2 linked regions of the Homo sapiens genome follow. The protein of the gene in region 1 interacts with the protein of each later gene in a biochemical or structural test. Each region holds a gene or a part of one and is shown on either strand. Other genes may lie near its edges.

Region 1 (3,500 bases):
GGAAAGATACCATCTTTCGTGAACAGGATTTTTATCATTGACCAAGGAACCAGGACAAATACAAATATATAAATCCATCTCTTCACGCATCCATCCTTCCAAGATATGTAATATGCCTACCAAAAGCTATAAATGAATTATGGGAAGAGCCGACTCAGCCACAAACATGAGGCAACACATTTTTATGTTTATCAAAAAATAAAGACCCAAATTAGAAGCCTTTAATACATGATGTGTTAAGAAGGCCTCCAAAGAGGTGGCGCTGTTTGTTGAGACAATGTGGTCCGTGAAGCTCATGCGTTGGTGAGGCTGGAAAATTAAACATGAGAGGGGTCTCACGGAGCGCAGTAGTGAGCGGACCACAAGGAGACCACACAGAAGAGCTCTCCCAAAGACCTCATTTCCTCAGACCCTCTTCCTTCTCTTTAGTTATGTCCCAATACTGACCGTGTTCTGCTAATGCTATTTCCACCTGTGCAACAGGAATCACATTTATTTATTTATTTATTTTAGAGACAGGGTTTCACTGTTGCCCAGGATGGTCTGGAACTCCTGGCCTCAAGCGATCCTCCTACCTTCGCCTTCTGAGTCGCAGGAATGACCTGTTTCAGGACTTACCACTTCACGTCATCGTTGTGGCCAGCGTAATGCCTCTGCAGTTGCTCCTCCACGTTGTATAACACCACCACGGATGCGATGAAGTAGACGGTCTCTCCCGTCGGAAGCAAGTACAGGTTGTTACGGCAGTCTCGACCCCTGTACCCATAGCTTTGTGGATGTCAAGATAAAATTTTTTTTCCCTTTAAGAGCTGACAAAACATCAGCTTTATTCAACAGGCACAGGCAATAAAATACCATATAACTATTACCATCAGCATCACTAATTTAAACAACATTAAATTGCAAATATTCCATGACAAATACATGTGACCCCCAAAAGGCATGCAGTAAAGTTGAAACAGTCATTGATGTAATGTGAATACATATTTTCACAATGATTTGGTTTTATTTTTAGAAAGCTATTGAGTCAATTATTAATTTTTTTACTGTAATCTACGAGCTAAATTTTTACTAAAAAATTCCTTTTTTAAACATGGTAAAAGTACTTACAAAGGGTACAAATGACACACACACATGCACACAAACATACATAAAAGGTAAAAAAAAAAAAATCAGGCCCCTCAGATCCTTTGGGATAAGAATCCCTGTTAAAATTTTTGCATTATATTTCCAAACCTTGAAAATTATTTTATTTTGAGAACAAAATATCACTTCAACTTGGATGTAAAAAGTAACCCGGCAAGATGCCAAATAATGGCCAAAAAAATGCCATTTATTTAGAGCAAATTTCATTGCTTTACATCTTCTAAAATATGAACAGGAAGTAGGCTGAATAAATGTTTTGAATAATGTTTTCCAGATGTGATATAACCGTTTAATAAACCACTACTGACTTAAAGACGAGCTGAAGCACTTCAATTTCATGTATCAAGATAGATTCCAAAACAGGTGCAGGTAAATGCCTATGACATTTGAATCTGGAAAAAAAAAAAGTATTTTGGGGGAGAAATTTAGGTACAGGTGGTAATTTTAAAAAATTTCTAAGGAATATGATTCCATAATCTCAAATAGTAATTATTCTAAATGAAGTCACAATAGCTTAAATTTAAACCAACATCTTATAATTTGTGTTCCAGGCTTGGCATTAAACAGGTACTCAAATATTTGAAGGTGAAAAAAAATTTTTTTTTTCCCTTAAAATCTGCATAGACTGAAAGGTGGTCTCTGCAGGATTCCTCTAAAGTAATAAGAAAATGGAAAAATAATCAACAATTAATTCACCTTTTTCACAGTTTCTATTTTCTTATCTTTCAGTTGTTTTTTCCCCTGGAAGCTCACTTTTCCAAACCTCATGCCATGAAGCTACCAGCACCTCTGTTTCAAGAACGTTAGTTATATGGTTGATTCAGATTTTTGTGGCCTAGATTTTTGGGGAGCCTTTTTGATTGATATGAATATATGTATTTTTGAGACAGGGACTTGCCAAGTTACCCAGGCTGGACTTGAACTCCTGGATCCTTCCATCTAAGCCTCTTGAACAGCTGGGACTACAGGGATGCATCCCTGTAGCTAGTTTTTTTTTTTTTAAAGTAGGATGATATCTACGTGATATGTCAATTTCATTTACGTCATTCACTTGACTCCCTTCATTCAGTACTTTGGTATTCATATTTTTCTATCATCCCTTCAGTCAAGGTCACACTTGAAGTTTGGCTCCTAAGGCTGGCCAAGTCCATACTTGGTTTAAGGGGAGAATGCTAGTCCTCCTTTCAGAGTACCCCTCTTTCTTTGGGTTTAAAAACTTTTTTGCCAATGTGGTTTAGTTTCAATTTTGGATACTCCCATTTCCTCAATCATAAGGACAATATTTTCTTGCATTGTCACTGTTGTTTCCTTATAAATATAGAGAGTGCCTAGTTTTCCATCTGTCCCTGAAGAGTTGACTAAGTATATGATAGCTCCTGTTAAAAATAATTGGCTTTTGGCTGGGCATGGTGGCTCATGCCTATAATCCCAGCACTTTGGGAAGCTGAGACGAGCAGATTGCTTGAGTCCAGGAGCTCAAGAACAGCTGGGGCAACATAGGGAGAGACTATCTCTTAAAAAAAAATCAGTTCTCATTAGAATCTAAAATTCTACCCATTCTTGATTATTTTCACTGTTCACTTCTTTATATATTTCTAACTACTATTGTCATTCTTTTGGAAAGAATAAAATTCGGACCAGAAACTAGTGATTCATTTTCTCCTGACAAAGAAAAAAATCACTCATACAATCATATAACATCTTCATATTTTCTTTTCAGCAAAATAATGAACATGTATTTGAGCCAGAACCACAGCTATTTCGTTCAGGAATGATAAGTTGGTTCTCCTGATAATAAGCCGCTCTTATGAAGCTCCTACTTTGTTAGAACTCTGTAGGTCTCTAACATATAGTCAATTTTGTTACATTAAGTTTTCAAAAGTAACAGTAAAACATTTTGTTTTTTAAAAGCTTAAGAGGACTTAAGTTTTATGAATTTCTACAGTTAACATCAAGCATTGATTGACTGATAACTTCATGTGAGACCTAATCAATGAATAAAGGATACACCCATTCCAGCTTGAGTCTCTTGGTTGGAAGTTCTACTTTTGCTTCCAAGCTGTAAGAATCCACTTGATCTTTGGGCATGTACATGGTAACAGGGCGTCCACGAAGAAACATTTTTACATAGCCTTCTTCTACAAAAAGAACAAAGATTTCAGTAAGATACCTCAGTGCCCAGCGTACCTGAAAACAAATGCTTTATCCTCTCTAGCCTTTCAGTATAAAAGAGAAACTTTTACCCTTCTGTCATTCTAATTGATATCCTAGGGAAAAAAGTAACATAAAAATAAACAGTTTGAAACAAAAGTTTGCATCTTGTTTGCTTTTGATATTCTGTTTACTTAAGTACA
Region 2 (4,074 bases), on another chromosome or scaffold:
CCCGGGGGTCCAGATTCAGCTCTGCGGCAGTGGGGCAGCGTCCTGTGTCCCGCGGGCCCCGGTGTTTCTGCATAGCCCGGCCCGCCCCTGCCCCCCCCGGGGTGACTGCAGGCGGCCGCTCGGCTTTCCGGGCTTCGGGTTTTCTCATCCTCCCGGCGGGCTGCGCCCGGCTTACTGCATCCCCGCGAGCTGCCGGGGGCTCGGCTCCCAGCGCAGGGGTGACCGCGGTGAGTCGTCCGCGCTGCCGCGTGACCGCCCGGGACCCGGCTTTGCTCCCGGCCTCGAGTCACCCCGACTTCCCTCTGCCCAGAGTGCACGGGCCTTCCTGCCCAGCCAGGCACCGCCCGAGGACCCCAGACAGGGAAGCAGCCGCGTTGCACCCCCTATCAGCTGCGGGAGTGGAGGCCGAGAACGGCCAAGGAACTTCCCATTGATTCCACAAGGGCAGCAGAGCAAAGGAACACGCTCTTGCCGCCCCCGCCCCCGAGAAAATTTCCTTCTCTGTTGCTTTCATTGTTAAAAAGAATCAGATACTATTATTACTGTGAGACAGGATCTCACTCTATCGCCTAGTCTGGAGTACAGTGGTGCGGTCATAGTTCATTGCAGCCTCGACCTCCCACGCTGAAGCAATGCTCCCATCTCAGCCTCCCAGGTAGCTGGGACTACAGGCGCGGCCCACCACGCCAGGCTAATTTTTTTTTTTTTTTTTTTAAGAAACGGAGTTTCACCATGTTATCCCGGCTGGTCTTGAACTCCTTCGCTAAAGTGATCCTCCAGTTTCAGTCTCCCAAAGTGCTGGGATTACATGAGATTCCTCATCCACCGTGCCCGGCCAGGTATTAATTTTTAAAAAGAAATATATTAAGAAAAAACAAACAACTCAAAAGGAATAAAAAGTAGCGGGCAAACTAAGAGCTCCAGTGTTCAGAAGCAGAGCACAAGGCAGCCAAGGACACGGTCCAGGGGACAAGGGCTCCCTCTGCTACCCGTGGAGCCTCAGGGGATGTCTGCATGTGCACCTGACTTCTAGATCCCAGCTCTTGCCTGACAAGTGCCTTGTGGGACCACAGCTCTGGGCCCATCCCAGCCATAGAAGGAGAAACCCCAGGTGGGCCCCAGGGCTGCCTGCCCTCCCTCTCCCCAGAGACCCCTGACCCTCCCAGGAGCCCCAGGGCTGCCTGCCCTCCCTCCCCCCAGCGACCCCTGACCCTCCCAGGAGCAGATGCTCAGGGGAGGCTTGGCCCCAGTGACCACATTAATGAGCCCTCAGCCCCTCCCATCAGGCCAAGGCAGCTGTCAGAGGCTGCTCCGGGAGTCCTGGTTTGATTTGAGGCCACTGTCCCCCAGGTCTCCCCTCCCCCAGGCTCTCCTTGGCAGGCACAGCTGTCTCCTTGGGTGATTAGAGTCTCCCCACTACTGGGCCTCCCACCCTCAGAGGCGCCTCCACCCGGAGCCAAAGTTGCAATTTACATGTCAGCCACGTGGCTGGCCCTGTTGTAATTAGCTTTTTGTTCCTGCCTGGTTTCCATGGCAACAGCCTCCGGAGGCTGCCTTTCTCTGGCCCCTTCCCCTCCAGGACCGTCTCCTGCACCCCCTCCTTCCCAGAATCAGCGCTGCACCAGCCCTGAGCTGGGTCCCTGGCCTTGGTCCTGACAAAGCCAGCCTCCCCCCCCGATCCCCTGTTCCCCAACACTGTTCGGAGGGCAGATCCTTTGGCAAGCAGCGCCCCCAACCCGCCCCGCCCGAGCCCCAGGTTGGCTCCTGCAGGGGATGAGAACCAAGGGCCAGCCCAGCTCTCTCGCACCTGCTGTGTGACCTTGGGCCAGGGACAGCCTCCCAGGACCAGGGGACACGACGTCCCCTTAATGATTTAGGCAGGGGTCCCTGCACAGCTGCACCAACGCCCCTTTCTGCGTGGCCCCAACATCTGCGAGGTGGGCTAACAATGGAGGGAGGGGCGCGCCACGGTGCAGCCTCCACACCCCACAGCCCGGCTTTGTTCCCACATCCAATCCCCAGACTGGTAGACCCTGGGTGGGCGCGGTCAAGCCCCGCGGGGGTTGCCCAGGAGCGGCTGCGCCGATGGAGAGCCTGGTCCTGGACCAAGGTCATCTCGAGTCCAGGCCCAACCCCTCCAACAAAGGGACAGGGTGGAGCTAGGACGCCGAGGGGTGTCGGAGCAGGCTGGGGAAATCGGGGCGGCTCTAGCCTCTCGGGGGACGTTCGGCTACTCCAGTGGGGGGTTCGGGCCGAGGAAATCACGGCTGTGAGGAGAACCCCCCACCCCACCCAAACCTGCCTACCCCACCCGTCTCACTCAAGGCTATGCCGCGGCCCCAAAAAAGAGGGCCACGCCCAGACAGGGCTCCCAGCTGCACCTGCGGAGGCCCGGTGGAGGGGGTGCAGGTGTGGAGGGGGCGCAGGTGTGGAGGGGGCTGAGGCTTCGCGACTGACGTGAGCTGCGCCTCGACAGCCCGAGGTCACCTGGGCAGGGGCAGAGAGGTGCAGGCGAGAGTCCCAGGGCGGGGGCCCCGCGTCCCGGCCGCCCGGCGCGGCGCTGGGCGCATCCCTTTGTTGCAGGTTCGCAGGGGCGGGGGCAGCTGGAGGTGCGGCCCGCGGGGCACGGCGCCTCCCTCCTCCCGCCCCGGGGCCCGGGACAGGCCGGGGCGCGCAGCCTCACCTTGGCCCCGATCTGGTTGCCGCACTGGCCGGCCTGGATGTGCACGATCTCCCTCATACTGGGCGCGTCTGGCGGGCGGCTGCGGACGGGCGCGGGCGGGCCGGGCTGGCTGCTGAGGGTCGGGGACCGCGGCCGCGCGCTCTTATAGCCGCGGCCCCGCCCTTCGCATCGGCTGATGTCACCGCGGGTGGCCAATCGGGAGGCGCCGCCGCAGAGCCCCGCCCGGCCCGCAGGCTCCGCACCGCGCGTCCCCGCCCGCCGCGCGCAATGCGGCGCCCCTCCCGCAGCCAAGGATCCCCCAGCGCTGGGCCGGGCGCGGTCTGAGGGCCCCGCGCATTCGAAAGGAGGGGCTGTCTCCCAGAGGAGCTGGCTGTGGGGGCGCCGGGCTCCAGGGAGGACAATGGCCCCTCTTGGCCCTGGGAACCCCGCCCCCAGCTACCCTCTCGGTTCCGCCCTTGCGACAGCCCCACCCTGCGGCTTTGTACGGAGGGTCTTTTTTCCCCACGCCGGTTTAGAGACCAACCCGCACCATCCCAGCTCCCTGTCTTTTGGCAGACAAGGTGCTCTGAGCTTTTGCCGGTTTTGGGTGGGGGAGGTAGGTAAAGGCTGGCCCAGGCCCTGAACCCACTGAGAAGAAACAAAGCGTCGGATCAGAGCTCGGAAGGGCGCGAACACAGAGGGGTGGCGGCGGCCGAGAGCGAGCTCCGTGGGTCGCCGGCTTCCGCAGTGGGCGGGGAGGGGGTGGGCACCCGACCTCCTCCACCAAGGGGCTGCCATGAGCGTCCAAAGGAGCTTTGTGGGCCCGGGCGCGCACAGCACCTGGACGTGCCACTGCCCGGTGCGCATCCGTGTCAGGAATTGTCACAAGGACGCACAAGCCAGGCAAGAACCCGGCCAGGGTGGGGGAGGGTGGGCAGCGGCTTCTATCTGACTCACTCTCTGAGGTCGGAGACTGCGTGCAGGGGGGCCTCGGGGGAGCGACTGGAGATGCGTTTACTGGTCAGAGAAGGAAGGGAGCAAAGGACTCGCCGGCACGGCACTGACCTCCTCCTGGGCCAGATATTACAGTGCCACCACCTTAGAACAAGGGCCTTCTGATACTTCAGTAACAAAAATCCTTCAGGAAGGGTCTGACAGTGCACGATGTACAGACGAACCCCACCCGGCCCCCAAATCAGCATTCACTTCACAAAATGAGCAGCTGCGAACTTGCCTGTGGACGCCTGTGTCCGGTCTGTGTGCACAGGGCTGTGTGTGGGTGGCGTGGACCTGTACCTGTCTCTCTCTTTTCTCTCAAGAAGCTCTCCAGTTTGGAAAGTCGAGAAATGGATCTTTTGTTCTCAAGAGATGCCCCTCCCTGCCCCACAGTGTGCTCGTGTGGCTGCTGCTGG

Evidence for each region. Proteins that work in one complex are often made in the same cells at the same time.
Region 2: the proteins of EML1 (region 1) and TUBB3 form a complex in vitro, tested with the Homo sapiens proteins (one study listed by BioGRID).

What each region holds. Positions count from the first base shown.
Region 1 is NC_000014.9:99,894,413-99,897,912, reverse strand, and holds part of EML1 (echinoderm microtubule-associated protein-like 1), read right to left. Parts: intron 3,285-3,500; coding exon 3,155-3,284; intron 769-3,154; coding exon 619-768; intron 1-618. UniProt on the Homo sapiens protein: Modulates the assembly and organization of the microtubule cytoskeleton, and probably plays a role in regulating the orientation of the mitotic spindle and the orientation of the plane of cell division.
Region 2 is NC_000016.10:89,922,068-89,926,141, reverse strand, and holds the start of TUBB3 (tubulin beta-3 chain), read right to left. Parts: upstream 2,801-4,074; 5' UTR 2,741-2,800; coding exon 2,684-2,740; intron 1-2,683. UniProt on the Homo sapiens protein: Tubulin is the major constituent of microtubules, protein filaments consisting of alpha- and beta-tubulin heterodimers. Microtubules grow by the addition of GTP-tubulin dimers to the microtubule end, where a stabilizing cap forms.